3 separate regions of the Homo sapiens genome follow, and regions 1 and 3 are each reported to be linked to region 2. Evidence: microRNA targets listed by miRTarBase, many of them from high-throughput screens and not tested one by one. Region 2 holds a microRNA gene; each other region holds the end of a gene's coding sequence.
What was found. The annotated mature microRNA hsa-miR-6726-3p reads CUCGCCCUGUCUCCCGCUAG and lies in region 2 at 1,007-1,026, shown strand. An mRNA with a match to its seed (bases 2 to 7 or 8) in the 3' UTR can be bound and repressed. Matches are read on the target gene's strand: a 7mer-m8 pairs with bases 2 to 8, a 7mer-A1 pairs with bases 2 to 7 and ends in A, and an 8mer does both.

Region 1 (3,243 bases), not on the chromosome of region 2:
AACTTAAAAAAAAAGAAAAGGACATCATGGGAGCCCAGGGCAAGAGATGGAACACCATCCTGGGAAGCCAGCATCCAGACAGGAGGCCTCTCTGGGGTGGCGCGAATGGGACAGAACACTTCCTTAGGATTGACACAGAACTAACACTGACCCACCGGCTTACTTTGGCCATTGTGCACATTCTTTGGCTCATTGTGACACCACCTGGTAGGCAGATCATAAAACTGTACCATGGGGTGGGCTACAGGTGGAGGAGACAGCGTTCTGCCTGCTTGGTGCAAGCAACCTCGCACAGGCAGCTAGGTGTGGTCTGCTCAAACTGGTTCTCAGAAGCCAAATCCTCCCCTCCTTTGTCTATTCACAAGAGTTAAGAAAAAGACTGCTTTCTCTGTTGATCTCAATAACAAAGGGGATGAGGCACTGCCTTGGCAAAGTCAAAATTGCAGTCACTTTCTGATTGTTAATGGAGAAAAGCAGGCGGCCTGCCAGGTGATGGAAAACACGCGGATCTTTCCTGTTTAACTTTGAAATGAATTATGTGATTGTTTTACAGAAGTAGTAACAGATTTGGCTTCCTTGTTGAGGCCACTGTTGAAAGTTGGTATTCTCCAAGCCTGCAACTGGGCAGAGTTTGTGTGTAATTAATAACTGAGAGTCCACTAAATGGGCACTCGGCCCTGTAAGCCATCACAGGTGAGCACGCTGGGGCAGTGATCATAAAGGTGACCCCTCTGAGATCAGGCTCTGGGCCAGAATGCATGAGAATCAGACAAAAAAAAAACAGAGGCAGAGTCCTCCTGCTAGGAAATCTAGAGCCTCCTTCTTTTTGGTCTTAAATTAACGTGGAACACAATTTTTAAATTTAAAATCACCCAGCACATCTAGTCAAGTAGTTCTCAGGTCTTCTTTTGTTAAAAGTTGCAGAGCCCATCATCCAAATGAATACTTAGTCAAGAAACCCTGGAAAGATGAACAAGAAACCAATAAAAATAATTACCTACCGGGGATTCAGGGGAGGAGAGGGCAGGGTGGAAGCAAGTTTTTTTTTGTTTTTTGTTTGTTTGTTTGTTTGTTTGTTTTGAGACAGAGTTCCGCTCTTATTGCCCAGGCTGGAGTGCGATGGCATGATCTTGGCTCACTGCAACCTCCGCCTCCCAGGTTCAAGCGATTCTCCTGCCTCAGCCTCCCAAGTAGCTGGGATTACAGGCATGTACCACCACACCCAGCTAATTTTGTATTTTTAGTAGAGACAGGGTTTCTCCATGTTGGTCAGGCTGGTCTCGAACTCCCAACCTCAGGTGATCCGCCTGCCTGGGCCTCCCAAAGTGCTGGGATTACAGGCGTGAGCCACTGCTCCCAGCCCAAGACTTCTTTTTTTATAGTTTTGACTTTTGAAGCATATACATTTCTTACCTCTTTAAAAAAGTAAGACCATTGGACGCCCCAAATGTGAAGCGGCTGAGAAGGGAGCTGCTCTGGCAGAAGGCGGTGGGAGAGGTGGAAGGGAGAGCCTAGCTACTCTGCCCTGTCCTCATCCCGGAGGCTCGGTTCCACTCCCACAGCTCTCAGCACTTGGACACCAATGGCCTGGCCCAATCCTTTGTTTTATAGATGGGGAAAAGGTGGCCCCCCTAGTTTGGTTCACTCTCTGGATCTCTCTTCCCATAGGACACATTCAGGAAGGGTTAGATACACTCCTCAGAAGACACAAAACACTCAATCCTTTTGAAAGATTTATTTTTAATTAAAAAATAAAAGTTATCTGAACATATCTGCATTGCAGTTTCAGGGATGGCACCTTAACCCATTTATGCCGAAGGTCACAAATGTTTTTTATGAAAAATCAGATCTTGGTGATGACCTTGAGCAGTAGGATAGAAATAACTCCCACAAGCTTAGGGTTCCAATAATGGAACCCTAGGCATGAATGGGTAAATGAAGCAAAAAACAAAACAAAACAAAAAAAAAACCAAAGCTTATCAGTTCTTGGGTCTTATGACCATCTTATAATGGGTACAAAGGCACACGTGTCTTCAAACAAACTTGATTCAGAAACATTTCTAACAACTCAGAACTACCCCCATGTTTTTGCCCACCCTCACCCCCCCAAAAAAATACAACCAAAAACATTAAATTCTTTTTTAAAACTACAGAAATAAGTGCTGAGTCAGCAAGGAACCTGGGCATGCTGCCCACATGCCGCCACGTCTCTCTGCTTTGATGACTGGCTGCCCAGAGGTCAGGAGGGAGAGAGCTAAGCACTTTCCACTGCATGCTAGGATATAGGGCTTGCAACATAGACCCAGCCCTACAGCCGTCACCCCAGCTGGGGCAGGCAGCTCCTAGGCGCTCTCTCCCTTAATCAAGGGCATCCACAGCTAAAGCAGCCTTTCAGGAGGTGACAGGCCCAAGACAAGCAAGTCTTTGTCAAATGCTTGCGATGACAAGGCCAATGGTAACTGTGGGAGGGAGGGAGACGGGTAGATCTCTTCGCCCGCAGTTTACTGGGCTGCTGGAAGGTTTTCTCTCCCTACTCTCCCTGCCTTCTCTCTTTTCCCTTCTCCCCAGTCTCCCTCTTCCCTCAAAAGGGTTTTACTTTAGCTTAATGGTGGGGGTTCCGAAGAGGGTATTGGCAACTCCTGGGGCGGGTCTGGTGGCTCTGCCATCTCTAAGGGGACATCACGTGCTTTCGGTTCCTGTGCTTCACAGAGCTCCTCCTGCCCCTGAGAGGGCTCCAGCTGCTCCTGACCCTGGGCCTGGCTGTTCATCTTCTCTTCAGCTTCAATCTCTTCTGATGTGGGGATGGAGTTCTTCTTGGGGCGACCTTTGGGTTTTGTGGGTGCTTCCTGTCCACCTTTAAGAACCTACGTGAGTAAAAAATTGTTATTGAATCTAAGAAATAATTCCTTCCCTCCACCTTTCCACTCCCAGTATAACCTCACGTTGCATCTAAACCATCTGTTCCAGCAGTGAAATTGCAGGATTTGGCAAAATATATTCTCAACCCATCACCTCTGGTCTACAAAGACACCTCCATTTTTTAAATGCTCAACGCATTTTTGGTCAACATTATATATTTTGGCATTTAATACAACAATCATAGGCAGCTTCAGAATTCAACTTCAACAATAAGGAAAGAAATGAAAATTAAAATGTTAATGCAATAACTATCAAGTTGACAAGCTAAAAAGACAACAATAATATTTGTAGCAAGCAGGAAAAAAAACACACTGTATGAAAGTG
Region 2 (3,243 bases):
TGGCCCCTGCCCCGTGCCGGTGCACACACCTACGTGCCACTGGGGATGGCCCCTGCCCCACACACGTGCACACGCCTGTGTGTGGCTCCTGCAAGCTGGGTGTGTGCTGGTGTGCACTGGCATGCTGGCTTGTGCAGTGTGGATGTGCATGTGTGTGCAGGTACCATCTGCCCATGTGAGGGTGTGCACGTATACACGCGCGTGTGGGAGTGTGCTCGGCACCATCTGCCCACGTGAGGGTGTGCACACGTACGTGCGTGTGCGGGCGTGTGCTCGGCGCCACCTGTCCACGTGAGGGTGTGCGCGTGTGTGCGTGTGCGGGCGTGTGCTCGAGGGGGGGGCCATCTGCCCACGTGAGGGTGTGCGCGTGTACGTGCGTGTGCGGGCGTGTGCTCGAGGGGCCCTGGCCTGCATTGGCTCTTCTGGCTGGGGAGGAGGGGGCCTGCTGGGGAAACCATGCTGGAGCCCCTGCGGGACCGAGCAGCTCCACCCCATCCTCCAGAGGCTGGACCGCACAGCATCCCCGTCCACGAGCAGCATCGACTCCGCCACCGACACTCGGGAGCGTGGCGTGAAGGGCGAGAGTGTGCTGCAGCGTGTGCAGAGTGTGGCCGGCAACAGCCAGTGCGGCGACTGCGGCCAGCCGGACCCCCGCTGGGCCAGCATCAACCTGGGCGTGCTGCTCTGCATTGAGTGCTCCGGCATCCACAGGTGGGCCCCTGAGGGCCAGGCTGGGGGTGGGGGTTGGGCTGGAGCATCCACAGGTGGGCCCCTGAGGGCCAGGCCGGGGGTGGGGGTTGGGCCGGAGCTGGGGGCCTTGCCTCCCCCAGACTCATCCCTACCTCTGCTCTCCAGGAGCCTGGGTGTCCACTGCTCCAAGGTGCGGTCCCTGACGCTGGACTCGTGGGAGCCTGAGCTGCTAAAGGTGCGTGTGGGGCTCCTGGAGGCCACGGGACCCCGTTTGTGGGGGCGGGAGCTGGGGTCTGCAGGTTCGCACTGATGCCTGCTCGCCCTGTCTCCCGCTAGCTGATGTGTGAGCTTGGAAACAGCGCTGTGAATCAGATCTATGAGGCCCAGTGTGAGGGTGCAGGCAGCAGGAAACCCACAGCCAGCAGCTCCCGGTGAGGTGGGGTACAGTCTGGATCAGTCAGGGAGCCCCAGCCTGGGGGCACAGCCTCATGTTCCCCCCTGGTCCAGGCAGGACAAGGAGGCCTGGATCAAGGACAAATACGTGGAAAAGAAGTTTCTGCGGAAGGCGCCCATGGCACCAGCCCTGGAGGCCCCAAGACGCTGGAGGGTGCAGAAGTGCCTGCGGCCCCACAGCTCTCCCCGCGCTCCCACTGCCCGCCGCAAGGTCCGGCTTGAGCCCGTTCTGCCCTGTGTGGCCGCTCTGTCCTCAGGTGGGAGGCCATGCCCCGGCAGGGCTGGGAGGGGCTTGCCTTGGTCGGGGATGGACTCCGTCAAGGGGCTGGTGGCAGGGCTCTGGGGGCACCTCAGGCTCCGCAGACTCCCGGCGTGACCTGGGGTTCCCTGCCCCACCCCGGGCCTGTTCCACACTCTGAACACGCACTGCCCCTGCAGTGGGCACCCTGGATCGTAAGTTCCGCCGAGACTCCCTCTTCTGTCCCGACGAGCTGGACTCGCTCTTCTCCTACTTCGACGCAGGGGCCGCAGGGGCTGGCCCTCGCAGTAAGTGTGGGGTGGGCCCAGCCAGGTGGCAGGGCAGGGCCAAGGAGGCTGGCCTGAAGGGTGCCTGAGTGTGGATGGCCCTTGCCAGGGAATGGAGCAGCATCTGAAGGGGCGGGGGGCCTCCTGGCCACACAGCTGGAGGCCAAGGCCCTGACTGTCAGGGGTGAGCTGTGCAAATGTGTGTGTGGGCTGTGTGCACCTGGGTGTGTGCACACAGCGGGTGGCCCGGGGTGCTGGGGAAGCAGAGGGCGCTGCCAGCCGGCCCTCAGCCTAGGGCCCTTCTGGAGCCATGCTGCCCGTTGGTTGGGTGGAGACATTTCAGCCTGGGCCAGCCACAGACGGGGCTGGGGGGCCCACTGCGGGGGGTGCCGGGTAAGGCGGCGAGCGGGAGGGAAGGGCTTCCCAAAAGGCCTGGGCTTTAGGGGGCTACCCCTGGCACCTTTGAGCTGTTATTTGGTTTTCTCTCCTTTGCTCCTAGCCTGCAGCTGGCTCCCCCCGGCCCTGGGTGGGAGCTGGTCCTGTCCCTAGGGGTGGCCCCTGGAGGGTGGGTGGAGTTCCAGCCTTGCCCCAGGGCTCTGGACGGAGTCTGGGCCTCCCACCCTCAGGACCCCCTTCCCTGCGGACCTGCAGGTCTGAGTAGCGACAGTGGCCTTGGGGGCAGCTCGGATGGCAGCTCGGACGTCCTGGCTTTCGGCTCGGGCTCTGTGGTGGACAGCGTCACTGAGGAGGGTGGGTGGCGTCTTGCCCTCGCCCGAGGCCCCTGCCCAGCCCCTGGGCAGCCCCGGGGGTTGCTTTCCCTGACCGCCCCCTCCCCACAGAGGGTGCAGAGTCGGAGGAGTCCAGCGGTGAGGCAGACGGGGACACTGAGGCCGAGGCCTGGGGCCTGGCGGACGTGCGCGAGCTGCACCCGGGGCTCTTGGCGCACCGCGCAGCGCGTGCCCGCGACCTTCCTGCGCTGGCGGCGGCGCTGGCCCACGGGGCCGAGGTCAACTGGGCGGACGCGGAGGATGAGGGCAAGACGCCGCTGGTGCAGGCCGTGCTAGGGGTGAGCGAGCCACGGGGGCTGCGCGCAGGACACAGGTGCACAGTCGCGTTTGCATCTTCTGTGGCGCCCACACAAGGGTCGCCTGTCCGCGGTGGGGACCACGTTCGGTCCCGGCTGGGGGCGCCCAAGGCCGGGGTCAGGGTGCAGAGGCGCGGAGAGGGGCCGGTGCCGTGGCTCCGTCTGAGTTGCCCCGGCTCCCCAGGGCTCCTTGATCGTCTGTGAGTTCCTGCTGCAAAACGGAGCGGACGTGAACCAAAGAGACAGCCGGGGCCGGGCGCCCCTGCACCACGCCACGCTGCTGGGCCGCACCGGGTGAGACGCGCAACCCACGCCCCGCCCTGTGCCCCGACCACGCCTACCCCGGCCCGGCTACGCCCTGTCCGCCATGCCCTATCCGGCCACGCCCCCGCGACCACACTCGCCCCGCCCCGCCCCGCCCCGACACGCCCCTCCGACCTCGCCCCTCAGCCAGGTTTGCCTGTTCCTGAAGCGGGGCGCGGACCAGCACG
Region 3 (3,243 bases), not on the chromosome of region 2:
CCTCCTAACATTCAGTAAAATACATTTTATCGAAACTCTCCATTAACTATAACTTCCTCTTGCCCAAGTCTAAAATGTTCAGGGAAGGTCCATGCCCTTTTTTCTCTTGCATTTTTCCTTCATAGGAAGTATGAGAAGATGCTTTTTCTCCACTCAGCTTGAATCATGCTTTTGGTTTTGTCTCTGACAGATGCAGCTGTCTTCTCCTCAGTGCTGGCGCTCTGACTACCCTTCCCAAAGAACCACGGCCCTCTCCCTTTACTGTTCTATAGCCCCAGAACTGGGAGATGGCTTCCTAAGTTGGCTATACCTTGTCCACTTCCAGTACTGGACGTGCTCAGGGTCTAGGGTCACAGATGGTGCTATTAATTGAACTGGAACACAGCAGAATTGTTGCAAAGGTTCTAGGAGCCAGATTCATTCCTTCTTCATTCTTTGCAAAACAGTGGTACAGACATGGAGTCTAGAATTGACCCAGATGGAAAGTAATTGGTATTCTTAATATCCTGGGTGACTAATATCCAGGCAGAGAAGCTCCTGGAACCATAACTGTAAGTTCCTAGCTGGCTAGGGATTGAAGTCCTGGACAGTGACAGAGGATACCACAGTAGTTCAAGACTTAGCACAAGTCACCAACTGCTTCAGGGATACCTGGAGGGGCCAGCAAGTAGAGTGTTGGTGGCCCAAGCAAACCAGTGTTGCCAATACCATTGCCAAAAGGGCCTTTGGATCCTGGACAAAGCTTGGCTGCCGGCTTCATTTATTCCTGCTGATGGCTGAGAAGCATCTGTCTTCCATCCCACTTGCCTGTCCCAAGTTTTGTTCCATTTTTTAAAAATTTGTTGTAAACTGCATGTTTTATAAAATAAAAATAAAATATCGTTTGTTATTTATCTCATTAGAGAACTGCTAGTGTGGGTTCTCTGGCTTCAGTCTTCCTCTCCTTCCTTTGAAGGTAAAGGTCCGGAATCCAAAGTTATGGATATGAAAGGGTATAATTAGGCCGGGCGCGGTGGCTCACTTCTGTAATCCTAGCACTTTGGGAGGCAGAGGTGGGTGGAACACGAGGTCAGGAGTTAAAGACCAGCCTGACCAAGATGGTGAAACCCCGTCTCTACTAAAAATACAAAAATTAGCTGGGAGTGGTGGATGGCGACTGTAACCCTAGCTGAGGCAGAAAATTGCTTCAACCCGGGAGGCGGAGGTTGCAGTGAGCCGAGATCACGCCACTGTATGCCAGCCTGGGCGATAGGGCGAGACTCCGTCTCAAAAAAAGGGGAAAAAGGTATAATTTATGCCTTTTCTGGGCAATGCTGGGTCTTTGCTATAGCTGCCCAGTACCCTAAGTCAGACTGAAGATGTACAGTATGGTTTCCGTTAATTGTGTAAGCCGACAAACTACAGGTCCCAGGATAGCTTGAGACTTGTAGTTGCTCACAAAGATGGGTCCGGTGCTGCGGTGCTTCCTGGGAGATGTAGTTTCCTGTGTATTGAAACCTGGACTGCTCGCTGGCCGGCAGCGCACCGTTTTGAAGGTCCTAGCCCACCTGGGCTGGCTCACGCGCACGACTAGCCGCTCCCATACAGCACGCCCGGACTCTGTCGTCGCTTAAGGCCACTCCTATTCTACGGCTGACCCCTGGTGGTCACGTGGATCTGTTCGCCACGCAAGTCTGGGTCCTTCGGCGATTGACCGGGGTCCTTGCTGTTCGGGAGCCTCTCCTAAGCTGCCTGTTCGCGCGAGAGTTTGGAGGGGCGGGTTTGGGGTCGGTGTCTGATTGGGGCTCGCACCGCAGCACGCTGGAGTCCCGCTTAGGTACCAGTTAGCGTCAGGGGAGCTGGGTCAGGCGGTCGCCGGGACACCCCGTGTGTGGCAGGCGGCGAAGCGCTCTGGAGAATCCCGGACAGCCCTGCTCCCTGCAGCCAGGTGTAGTTTCGGGAGCCACTGGGGCCAAAGTGAGAGTCCAGCGGTCTTCCAGCGCTTGGGCCACGGCGGCGGCCCTGGGAGCAGAGGTGGGACGGATGCGGGCGGCGAGGCGCTGGGCGCTGAGGGTTGGGGATGGACTGAAGCGAAAGCAATGGCGGAGTCCTTAGAAAGGGGGCTGGTGTCCGTACGGGTAATCACTTACGGGCTGGAGGTGGGGACGCAGGAATCTTCGGTGCAGGATCCAAATGGGCCCTAGTTATTGCTCTCCTCGCTGGCCTCCTGGCCTGACTGAGGGCTCCCTGCCGGCAGTTCCCTAGTGCCTGTAGTCCTCACGTAATCGCCAACTTACCTCCTGTAGCTGCCACAAAGCCCCGTGAACCCTAGGCATGCAGTGCTAAAGTACCAACACTTAGGGCCTCACCTATCCACGTAGAGTCTGGGGCTGAGCCGCAAGTCCTGAGCTCGCGCTCCCACCCACCACCCTGGGGGAATCAGAGCCCTCAAGCGCTGGAACAGAGAAGCCCCTTTGTGTCCCGGCCATTTCCTGGAAAGTAGAGCCAGAGTCACAATGAGGCCTTTGAAAGCCTTGGGGTGAGGATTGGGGGGGTCAGGGAAAAATGGAGTCGGCTCCTCACACTTATGTTTTATTCCCACTCAAACCCAGGTGGAGCGACCCCATTACGCTAAAGATGAAAGGCTGGGGTTGGCTGGCCCTGCTTCTGGGGGCCCTGCTGGGAACCGCCTGGGCTCGGAGGAGCCAGGATCTCCACTGTGGAGGTAAAGGCACAACGGGAAAAAGAAGTGGAGGAAGCAGAGCCTTGGGAGGGCATGAGATCCAAGGCCTGGGAGAAGGATGAATGGAAATCCTGGGTTGATCCCATTCTCCTCACACCCTACCCCCTACCCTGTCCCCTGCTCTCATTCTCTCCTCTTCCACCAGCATGCAGGGCTCTGGTGGATGAACTAGAATGGGAAATTGCCCAGGTGGACCCCAAGAAGACCATTCAGATGGGATCTTTCCGGATCAATCCAGATGGCAGCCAGTCAGTGGTGGAGGTAACTGTTACTGTTCCCCCAAACAAAGTAGCTCACTCTGGCTTTGGATGAAATTCGACTGCTTAAAAAGGACCTTGGTTTAATAGAAATGAAGAAAACAGACTCAGAAAAAAGATTTGGCTCTGTCTCATTTGGAAGAAGCTGCAGGCTTATTCCCCATGCACTTGCTTCCTGGCTGCAAACCTTAATACTTTGTTTCTGCTGTAGAATTTGTTAGCAAACAGGGAGTCCTGATCAGCACCCTTCTCCACATCCACATG

Region 1: the mRNA of BARX2 is a reported target of hsa-miR-6726-3p. Seed matches in the 3' UTR shown: 7mer-A1 at 2,490-2,496.
Region 3: the mRNA of PAN2 is a reported target of hsa-miR-6726-3p. The part of its 3' UTR that is shown has no 7-base or 8-base seed match.

The regions. Positions count from the first base shown.
Region 1 is chr11:129,450,757-129,453,999 of GRCh38, reverse strand. BARX2 (BARX homeobox 2) reads right to left here. Exons shown (of 4, transcript NM_003658.5): 4 at 1,721-2,864. The coding sequence ends at 2,598. Among named protein-coding and RNA genes, the nearest start is that of BARX2, 77 kb to the right of the region's middle. RefSeq lists an enhancer at 182-683.
Region 2 is chr1:1,293,893-1,297,135 of GRCh38, reverse strand. MIR6726 (microRNA 6726) reads left to right here and starts at 966; the gene lies at 966-1,026. It overlaps ACAP3 (ArfGAP with coiled-coil, ankyrin repeat and PH domains 3), which reads left to right. Exons shown (of 24, transcript NM_030649.3): 15 at 503-711; 16 at 856-925; 17 at 1,027-1,121; 18 at 1,198-1,400; 19 at 1,582-1,689; 20 at 2,320-2,418; 21 at 2,508-2,734; 22 at 2,937-3,046; 23 at 3,203-3,243.
Region 3 is chr12:56,314,591-56,317,833 of GRCh38, reverse strand. It overlaps PAN2 (poly(A) specific ribonuclease subunit PAN2), which reads left to right. Exons shown (of 26, transcript NM_014871.6): 26 at 191-898. The coding sequence ends at 225. CNPY2 (canopy FGF signaling regulator 2) reads left to right here and starts at 1,846. Exons shown (of 6, transcript NM_014255.7): 1 at 1,846-2,013; 2 at 2,592-2,704; 3 at 2,868-2,983. The coding sequence starts at 2,617. It overlaps CNPY2-AS1 (CNPY2 antisense RNA 1), which reads right to left. Exons shown (of 2, transcript XR_002957416.2): 2 at 3,026-3,243. RefSeq lists enhancers at 1,493-1,642, 1,723-1,772, 1,273-1,861.